Regions from separate parts of the Homo sapiens genome. Here region 1 is linked to region 2. Evidence: fine-mapped expression QTL. A gene starts in region 2. The other region holds a variant in brackets. All regions are shown on one strand. Distances are between the middles of the regions.

Region 1 (5,382 bases), 780 kb after region 2:
AAGGTGGATGCTCTTCTGTCAGCGCAACCAAAAGGAGATCCAAGAATCGAGTACCAGTTTTTTGAAGACAGACACAGGTATAGAATTAATGTTGAATTTGTGCATATTCTTGAATATTAAACTCTTATGTTTGCTTTACCTCAGCTCCTTCATTTTTCCATATAAGATTTATATATAAGTTCTTACAGGAATTGAACATTTGTTTGGTGTGCAGTTTTCACATGTATATATTTGTGTTCATATATAAAATTCATATGCAAATCTCAGTTGTATGAAAACTGACATTTATTTCTAAATGAATCTGAAATAACTCTGAGTGCACCCTTGTAGTAGAAAATAGACTGCATTTAATTAAACAGAGAAGTTGTACTTTTCTTAAATTCGAGAATAAACACAGGCAGGTCAAGATAGCTCATGCTTGTAATTCCAGCACTTTGGGAGGCCAGTGTGGGAGGATCGCTTGAGCCCAGAAGCTCGAGACCAGCAAACAAAGGGAGACCCTGTCTCTACAAAAAAATTTTAAAACATTAGCTGGGTGTGGTGGCATGTGCATGTTGTCCCAGCTACTCTGGAGGTAGAGGCTGCAGTGAGCCATGATCTCATCACTGCACTTCCAGCCTGAGCAACAGACTGAGACCCTGTCTCACAAAAAAATTAAACAGAGATTGGCTGGGCGTGGTGGCTCATGCCTGTAATCCCAGCACTTTGCGAGGCTGAGGCCAGCGGATCACCTGAGGTCAGGAGTTTGAGACCAGCCTGGCCAACATGGTGAAACCCCATCTCTACAAAAATACAAAAATTAGCCAGTCATGGTGGCAGATGCCTGTAATACCAGCTACTCAGGAGCCTGAGACAGGAGAATCGCTTGAACCCAGGAGGTAGAGGTTGCAGTGAGCAGAGATCGTGCCATTGCACTCCAGCCTTGGAGACAGAGCAAGACTCCATCTCAAAATCATAATAATAGTAAGATAAACAGATTATTAAAGTACTTGTCTCATTCATCTTTTATTGAAAACTTTTTTTAAAAAAAAAAAACAGGGTTTCATTCTGTCATCTGGGCTAGAATGCAGTAGCGTGATCTCAGCTCACTGCACCTTCCGCCTTCTGGGCTCAAGTGATCTTCCTACCTCAACCTCCTGTGTGGAAGAGACCACAGGCGCTTGCCACCATGCCTGGCTAGTTTTTGTATTTTTTATAGAGATGGGGTCTCACTGTGTTGCCCAGGCTGGTCTCAAACTCCTAGGCTCAAGTTATTCATCTGCCTCAGCCTCCCAAGGTGCTTGGCCGAAAACTTTTGTTTTAAATAAGCTTAGCATAGTGAGGGAGTTTGCCTTTTTGTTCTTCACTTTTTTGTTTTGAAAAGTTTAAAACCTAGAAATAGTTGAAAGACTAATATAATGAGCACCCAAATATCCTTCACTTAGATTCACCAGTTGTTGGTGTGTCACATTTGCTTTATCTCTGTCATCTGCACACGTGCATGTTGTGTGCGTGTGTCTGCATGTGTGTGTTTGTGTAGTACTTCTAGTAACTGCTTTAGTAGTTTATTTATATGTTTGCATACACACGGTCATATTTTTTCCTGCACCATTTGGAAATACGTTGCAGACATCCTGATGTAACATGTCTGACGTTTTCCGCATGTGTATCCTGAGTGCTAGGACTTCTCCGCAGTACTGTTAGCTGACCTCAGAAATGTAACCTTGATACAGTAATATTAAAACACAATTTCTGTTCACATGACTCCAGTATCTTTGTAATGACCTTCTACAACTGTTTTTTGTATTTGTTTTGGTCCAGATTACATATTACAGAGTTGTGTCTCTTTGGTCTCCTTTAATCTGGAAGAGTTCTTTGCCATTTTTTTTCCTAGTCTTTTGTCTTTTATGATGACATTTTTTAAGAGTCCAGGACAGTTGTCTTATGGAATGTCTCACAGTCTGAGTTGCTTCCTCATGATTAGATTTAATTGTTTCTAGGAAAGAGCCCTGCGCAGTAATGTATATAGCCTTTGCTGTAGCTGGCAAGTATATACATATACACTGATTGTGCCTCGGAATCCCCAGGGAGGCTTTAAATATAGATGCCTGTGTCCTATTCCTCTGTGTTTCTGAGCTGATCAGTCTGGCATGGATTGGACTTTGGTTTAGTGGGCCTGTGTTTTTTATGACCCATCCTTGTGGGGATCAGGTGTGCGTGGTGAGATCATTTGATGATTGTAGGCTGGAATGGAGGCCCTCTCTGTTTGCACTGGTTGTGTGTCCTAATTTTTTATGTCAGCAGTGGGTGAAGATTCTTATGGCTCCTGGATAATCCTTGTTGAATTTGGCCATTAGCACCCAGATTGCACCCATTTTCTCAACATTTTGTGAACTTTCAGGAAGTAACTCATTAGTCACCAGCGGGAGGAAACCTTTCCTAATCAACCTGCCATCTTGTTTACCCTTCTTGCCCAAGGTAGCGAGTCCTGAGCAAAGACCTCTTCCCTTTTCAGAAATCTTCTTCTCCATGGGTCTCCATGTTTTGTATAATTAAAATACCTTAATTATAAATTCTATTATGAGACAAATTATAATTCCTATTAGAGAAGTTCCTCTTATTGGGAGTTGTGTCAGTTAAATGAATGTTTATTACATTTAACTCAGAAGTTTCTCATTTATGCTAGAAATAGAAAGATCTGAACCATCAGTTATGTATATTCTTGCCCTCAAAGTGTGGTCCATGGACCAGCAGCAAGACATTGTCTGGGAGCCTGTTGGAAATGCAGGCTTTGGACCCACCCCAGTCCTGAGGAATCAGCACCTGCATTTTAACAAGTTGCTCCTGGGGGATTCCCGTGTGCATTCATGCTACTAAGCACAGTATTCGTTGACATTTACTCTACGAACCATAGGCAAATGTGTATAATCTCCAAATCTTGTTCCTGTCTCTGTCACTTTTAGTTTTATTCTGGTCTTTTCTCTGCACAATATAGTGAATACATTTAAACATGATGTTGTTCATATTGTTCCCATTTCCACACAAATACTCCTCTTTCCTTGTTTTTTTTCGAGTCCCTTTTTCTTGTTCTAGAGATGTGGGGTAAGTAAAGGACCTCACAAGGTCAATTTGTGGTGTGCCTGTTGCTGATCACCTAGAACACTGCTGGCTCAGAATGTGAACATGTTGTGTGAATCTCTACCCCAAACCTGGTGTGGGCAGGCATGACCAGATGTTACACTCTT[G/T]TGTAGAGTCCTTTTTGAGACTCTCTCTCTGGTTCCCTTGTGAGCCTTTGTATAATGCTATTTTCTAATGAGTTTTTCCTTCTAGAATTCTAGAATAGCAGAGAGGTGCAAATTATATTAGGGCAGTGGCTCTCAAAATTTGGCTTTTACTTAGAGTTTGTTAAAATGCAGATTGCTGGACCCGTCCCCAGAGTTTCTGATTCAGTAAGTCTGGGTTGGATCCTGACTTGCTTCTCACAAATGCCCAGGGGAAGCTGATGCCACTGCTCTGGAGTCACACTTTGAGAACAGTTGTATTAGAGTAACAGAAGTTTTGTTGTGTTAGAAGAATAATGATTGGCAGTGGACTTAATCTGAAATTGTTAATAATGCCAGAGATCGAAAGCACCTACCTCAACACAGATACAAAGCTATTCTCATGGTTATTTCCAAAGCAGTGAAGATGTGAAGTAACCTCCATGAGCATGTAAATTGTTTCCAGTTTTCTTCGTTATGCTGTTTTGTGGTATTCTTTTGTATTCATCCCACTTAGGTAAATGTTGTTTGGTAAAAAAAAAGTAAAAGTAGTGGTTAGTATTGTAACCACATTATAGTATTGTTCAGAGCAAACAAAGTATAATGGTTTAAACAGTTAATGGTTTTCAAAAATTGGGTATAATTTTAAATCCTTTCAAGTTGAGTCCTTTTAAAAGTTCATTAGAGGTTCCTGCTCCTTTTAAGTCACCAGTCTGTGTGACTTCACAGGGAGTCCATGCAACAGGAAGTTACCATTCAGTTAAGAACAGACAAGGGGGCTGGGCATGATGGCTCATGCCTGTAATCCCAGTGCTTTGGGAGGCCAAGGCAGGCAGATCACTTGAGGCCAGGAGTTCAAGACCAGCCTGGCCAACATGGCAAAACACCGTCTCTACTAACAATACACAAATTAGCTGGGCATGGTGGCATGTGCCTGTAATCCCAGCTACTTTGGTGGCTGGGGCGCGAGGATTGCTTGAGCCGGGGAGGTGGAGGTTGCAGTGAACCGAGATCACGCCACTATACTCCCAGCCTGGGTGAATGAGCGAGACTCTGTCTTTAAAAAAAAAAAAAAAAAAAAAAAAAAAAAAAAAAAAAAAAAAAGACAAGGACCAGGTGTGGTGGCTTATGCCATTGCTTTGAGAAGCCAAGGCAGGAGGATCACTTGAGGCCAGGAGTTTGAGACTAGTCTGGTCAATATGGTGAGACCCGTATCTCTACAAAAAAATATAAATTAGCCCGGCATGGTGGCATGTGTCTGTAGTCCTAGCTACTTAGGAGGCTAAGTTGAGAGGATCATTTCAACCCAGAAGTTAGAGGCTTCAGTGAACCATGATCACGCCACTGCACTCCAGCCTGGGCCACAGAGTGAGACCTTGTCTCTAAAAAAGTAAATAAGGAAAAGAACAGGCAAAATATCTATCTATAACTTAATGCTGACGAAGGATGTGGTGAAATTTATTTTTTGGCCTTGTAAATTTGTTTAGTTCTTCAGGAAATGTGGTTGACAATACTTATTAGCCGCAAAGTATTTGTATCCTTTGTCTCCATAATCTCATGTCTAGCACTTCCTTGACTCTAAAGAAATTTCCAAATGTGGAGAAAGTTGGTTGTACAAATTGTTTACAGGTTGAAAGCCATCTCTATGTCCAGCAGTAAAGAAAAGCTGGAGTAAACTCTGACAGCTTCATTTGGTGAATAGCATATTATTTCTTATAGAGGATGCTTGTTGTGTAACAGCATGTGGAAATCTTTATGCTACAGTAGTGAGAGACGGAAGGAAATTGTTTTGAAATTGCTAATCTGTATCTACAACTAATGTTTATACAGGCATCTAGAAAGGATTACGTAGAGATGCAGCTAAGTGGGCTGGGATAGTGAATATTTTGTGATTATATTTTTCCTTTTTCTTTGTTTTGCAGGTTTTCTGGAATGTTCTTTCATTATTTTTTAAAAATTGATTTATTCCTTTTCTTTTTGTACTCTTCTTGCCAAGAAGTAAAAACTGGCATAATGTTATCAGAAGCTAACTTCAGTAGCTTTTCTCAGTTTTTGGTTAAATACAGTTTCAAGCTGCTTTTCCTCTCTTTACATGGACCTTTCAGTCCATTTCAGATCCATTATTAAGGTTTTGCAATCTTTG
Region 2 (5,382 bases):
GTATATACTTTTTTTAGACATAATGCCATTGCACACAATAGACTACAGTATATTGTAAACATAACTATATGCACCGTGAAACTAAAAAGTTTATGTGACTCACTTCTTTTCCTTTATTGCAGTGGTCTGGAACCAAAGCCACAATCTCTCTAAGGTATGCCTGTACATGTACCTATAGATAAAGCAAATATGGCAAGATAACAACAAATGTTTAATCTAGAGGGTCAAGATACAAGTGGTTTACTATTACCAAATTTTCTGTATGCTTGAAATTGTTTGATAATAAAAAGTGGGAGGTGGGGGGAAATAGCTCCAATTCTATAGGGAAAGAGAAAATCAACCTGAAACCAACGCTGTAGGAAATGCAGAGTATCAAACATGACTTTATTTTAATACAGCACCTGTTAGTTTAACCCTTTGGTACCAATAAAGTAAACTAGAAACAAAAGCTCCCCCTAAAACATTGCTTATAAGACTCAGTCTCTAATGCAATCCAATTATTTAAGATAAGCCTTTAACAGCTAGTTTCTCAAAAGAGGCACATGGATAACCATTCTATAATGATATCATATACAACATAATTCAATAAGATTCAACATGTTTATATTTTAACCAAACAACAAATCAATCTGTAAACCATCCACATGTTAACTTTGTAATTTCACCTTTTCTCCACAGAGACTGCAAGACCACAAATTTTCTTCAACTTGATAATATACTAGGAAAATTACAGAGTAATATAACTGGGCATCAATAGATTTGTTAAACATTTGCAATTATGCATAGAGCTTCAATTACTCAAAGGAAATGTATCGACTTTTTTTCAGTACAGAGCTCTGGCTCCTTATTTTTTCCTCTCACCATAGTTTTAAAAAATACAAAACTCATGCTAAAATGAGAATTTTCAGTTAACTTATAAACACTGACTAGTAGCACTCCATACAAATGAAAAAGAATCACACCATCAAACTTCCTACGATATTCTACGCATTAAAATTTGACATCGAACTAAAAAAGATTGCATAAGACAACGAACAAATCACTAAATTGCCACATAATCCAGCAACAAATTTTGCAACAAGGAAATCTCAAGCAAATAACCCAACTGTGAGTTCCCTTTGGGCATCAAGGTCAAACTACAAAAGTAAATTTGTGACTTTTCAAGATCTATGCAGTTTTACCAAATGTATTTATTTTTTGTGAGAGAATAATTTTTTTCTGTCCAGTACTAGTACATAAAAAGTAAAGGTATCTGAAGCCATCTTTTAAATTTTTTTTAAAGCCAAGAAAATGATTTGGCAAAAGATATCGAAGAGCTTACGTTAGGGAAAACTAAACTGTATCTGTCTATGTGTTTAGAATTTATCCCATTAAAGAAACTGCCCAGTTAGTCTCATTTTCTAAACGTATTTATTTTTTGCAAGACGAGAAATACAGTCTTACAAAAAGACATCTGCATATTCGAACCAAGCCTTCCTGGATTACTACCTTCATGACCTTGGACAAATGCCTTAATCTCTCTGAGCCTCAAGTTTTCACCTGCAAAATGGGGCAATTTACCCACCTCATTGAGCTGGGAAGATGAAGAGAGATAATGCATGACAACTGCCGGGCGCAGACTAAGAGCACCCTAAGTGCTACCTAAATATTCCGTAAAGAGAAAAGGGGGAAACAACCTTACATCAAAAGATTACCACACTGTGACAGTGCAAAGACAAGCACTTTTTCGCTTACTGCATGTACCATTTCTGCTTCATCCCAAGACCAGATGCAACCTTTCTTCTAAAATCTCTGCAGGGTACGTGTCTGACAGCTAACACAGCCCAGCAGCCTACTTCGCGCTGACCTGGGCTTTAGGACTGGATGCAGGGGGCCCAAGGTCCGCCCTCCCGCAGCTAGGCAATCACCCAGCGAAATCTCCGCCCCTGGAGCGGCGCTTAGGCCGCCGCCAGCCCCCCTCCCGGCGCCCAGCCCGCGGCCCCCGACACACACGCGCGCACACACACACACACACACACACAAGCGCGCGCGCACGCACACACGCACGTACCGGCTGCTCCGCAGGGACGTAGAGAGCCGCAGGCCCAAGGAGGGGCCGCCCCCGCCGAGCCCGCCCCTCCGCCCCAGCGCGGCCTGTCACCGCGGCCCCAGGTCGGGGGCTGCCGCAGGGCCCCCGGGGACCGGAGGGGCGCGCGAGGAGTCGGGCGCGGGCCTTGGGGCCAGGCCCGTCCCTCTTTCACATGAAGCCCGGGCCGGGCGGGGTGGCGGGCGCGTGAATCCTCGCAGCCGGCCGGGTCCTCCTGGCGCTCCTCGGCACTTCTAGCCGCTGCAACCCCGAGGCCCGCGGGAACTGGGCAGGAAAGGAGGAAGCCGCGGGCCCGCGTCGCTAGAGACCGGAGAAGAGGCGGGAGTGGCGACTCTGCGGACAGGGGCGCCGAGCGTCCTGGTCGTTGTTTTCGTCGCCGCCGCGGGCCGTGCAACCCCCGAACGCTGCGCCCAGCGGCCGCGGCACCCTCGTCAGGCGCCGCCGCTGAGGGCAGGCAGCCCGGCAGCCACTACACACGGACCCGTGACGTCGGGCGTAGCGCGGCGCACGTCACGGCCGCTCGCTCGTGCGCGCGCACCCCTCCGCCCGGCGGTAGCGGAACCCGCCGCGGGCGCGCGCCCGGCCCAGGGGAGTGGGTCGGCGCCTGCGCAGAGGCCCGCCACGCCCACACACAGGCCACCGCCCCCACCGGCCGGACGGCGCGGGGATTCCCAGTCCTGGCTCCGCCCCGGCCTCGGCCCCGCCCCCGCCCCTGCCCCGGGGCAGCCTGTGCTGTTCCGTGTGCGCGGCGCATACGCACCTGGGTTGTCTCGAGCCTGCGGTAGTGGCCAGATCCCAGACATCCGAGTAGATCCCGTGAAAAGGTCTCCCACGTGGGCTGTGGACAGGGCCCAAGGGTAGCAGAGCTAGCAGAGGCAGTGACGGACTGTGTGGCAGGTCATTTGCAAGGAGAAAAGCCGTCTGCCTCTTAATTTGTGGCTCAAGTTTCAGAATTTTTTTCCTGAGGGACTTTAGAAATTACTTCAGGCTTGCCACCTAACCTTAAACCACCCCCTTGGAGACTGGCTAAGTGTTATTTGTGTTTTCTGTTTAGTTCTTATCACCATCGATACTTGGTTATGACTGGTTGTGTACATTGGTTAGCCCAGCAAGTATTACTTCTCCAGCTTAACAGATGTGGAAACTTAAGCCCAGAGACATGAGTTGACACCCCACCCCCAAAGCTAGAGTCTAAAACCCTTTCTTTCGCTCCTCATCTCCCACAGGATAAAATGCAAATTAATCAGACTAGTGGTGAGGCCCTCCGTGGTGTGACTAACCTGCATCCCGACGTTTTCACCCTACTTTGATCCAGAAAGCACCTTTCCGCCCCATCTCTTCTCCTTTCCTTAAATACCCCTTACAACTTCCTGTACCATTCTTCCCTGTTCAGCTTCTTCTTGGTTTCTTCGTACATTCTGGATCCACCCCTTTCATGCATATTCCAGACCACATTTCCACTGGAGCAGTTGAAATGAGAGAGATGGGAATGGGACTCACCCGAACCAGAGGTAAGGAGCTACCCAACTTGGGCTCTGAGGGTCAAGGGAGCTGGCACTTGTGGGGCAGAGACTGAGGGAGAAACTGTTGTGTAATGTCAAAATATCTCTGGGTTTCTTCCAGGAATTTTTATTACAGACCCATTAACAGAGGTGTCAAAGTCACAGGAACAAGGATGTGCACCTCAGAAACACAGAGGTCAGTGGAAAATCAGTTTGCTTCTATTTGTTTAAAAAATGGGGGACTTATGCATAAATCTAAGACCTTCTTGAATCTAACATTCTAAGACCTGTATGCCACAGAAAGGAGGGTCTCAGAACGCCGGAGGATAGTATTTAAATCTTAAATATCTATATTGTTCTCCACAGTTACTGGGTCACCACATAGCAGGCATTCAATAAAAACGTGTTTGTTTACTAAGTAATCTAGAGATAAATTTTTTCCCCTCATAGTGCTGCTCATTTCTCCACTCCCTTCCCTCACTTACCACCCCGGGGACTTCATTCACCTCTGGGTTCCTCAGAAACATCCCGTGGGTATAGTTATAGTAGCTATTCTTTCTTTTTCGCCATTCTCCTTTTATATTGGTGACTTTTCCTCTTGCTTAGATATTAAATCTCTGACATCTTTGGTTATTTTAGTATATATGATTACAAATTAGTGATATTGGGATTTTTTTATTGATGAAACCATCATTCAATGAATATTTTTTTGCCTTCCTACTCTGTGCCTGGGATTGCAGTGATAAAATTATATAGTCCCCACTGCCCAGGAACTCAGAATCCTGTGAGGAAGGCAGACAGGTAAATGGATAATGATAACACACTGTGACCTGCATCATGGGAGGGATGTGTATCAGGCACCACAGCAGCAAGAGGAAGATGTCACAGGTGTGTCTGGGGAAGTGAGAGATGACTTCAGAGAGGAAATGTGGCATGTTCCTTTTCTGTTGCTGCATAACAAACTGCCACAAACTTAGTGACTTAAAACAGTGTCTGTTTTTTAGCTCCCAGTTATACAGATCAGAAGTTTGCACAGGGGCAAGGCTGAGTTCTCTACTCAGGGTATATTGCAAGGCTGAAATCAAGGTATCAGCTGGGCTGACTTTTTATCTAGAGGCCCTTGCAAAGATCTTCCAAGCTCATTCTTCTTTGGGGCACAATTCAGTTTCCTGTGGTTGTAGGATTGACATCCCTATTTCCTGGGCCTGCCTTCAGTTCCTAGAGGTCACCTGCATTCCTTGCCACATGACCCCTTCCATCTTGAAAGCCAGCGACAGAGACCTTCTTGCGTGCCAAACATCCTCCTACATCAGATCTCTCTCTAACTTCCTCTTTTGCTACCAGCCAGAGAAAACTCTCTGCTTTTATTTTTATTTATTTTTTTATTTTTGAGACAGAGTCTCACTCTGTCGCCCAGGATGGAGTGCAATGGCGCAATCTCGGCTCACTACAACCTCCGCCTCCCAGGTTCAAGTGATTCTCCTGCCTCAGCCTCCTGAGTAGCTGGGATTACAGGCACCCACCCCCACGCCCAGCTAAGTTTTGTATTTTTAGTAGAGACAGGTTTTCACCATGTTGGTCAGGCTGGTCTCGGACCCCTGACCTCGTGATTTGCCCACCTTAGCCTCCCAAAGTGCTGGGATTACAGGCATGAGCCACTGCACCCGGCTTTTAGAGAGTTCATATGATTAGATCAGGCCCACTGAGATAATCTATTCTTAACATCAACAGTGTCACATAACATAACCTGATCATAGGAGTATAATCCATTATATTCACAGTACTGAGGGTTAT

What was found. PIP is the estimated chance that this variant, and not a neighbour inherited with it, causes the effect. A credible set is the group of variants that fine-mapping cannot tell apart.
Region 1: its variant is the best candidate, but not a certain one, in a credible set for the expression of MAP3K2 in left ventricle (GTEx, PIP 0.89).

The regions. Positions count from the first base shown.
Region 1 is chr2:128,164,749-128,170,130 of GRCh38, forward strand. UGGT1 (UDP-glucose glycoprotein glucosyltransferase 1) reads left to right here. Exons shown (of 41, transcript NM_020120.4): 26 at 1-77. Among named protein-coding and RNA genes, the nearest start is that of UGGT1, 76 kb to the left of the region's middle. The variant G/T (reference allele first, on the strand shown) is at 3,225.
Region 2 is chr2:127,385,402-127,390,783 of GRCh38, forward strand. It overlaps MAP3K2 (mitogen-activated protein kinase kinase kinase 2), which reads right to left and starts at 2,574. Exons shown (of 17, transcript NM_001371910.2): 1 at 2,051-2,574. MAP3K2-DT (MAP3K2 divergent transcript) reads left to right here and starts at 2,037. Exons shown (of 4, transcript NR_187129.1): 1 at 2,037-2,151; 2 at 3,480-3,597; 3 at 3,710-3,784. LOC124906074 (a long non-coding RNA gene) reads left to right here. Exons shown (of 4, transcript XR_007087227.1): 3 at 123-154; 4 at 679-760. RefSeq lists a silencer at 1,994-2,863.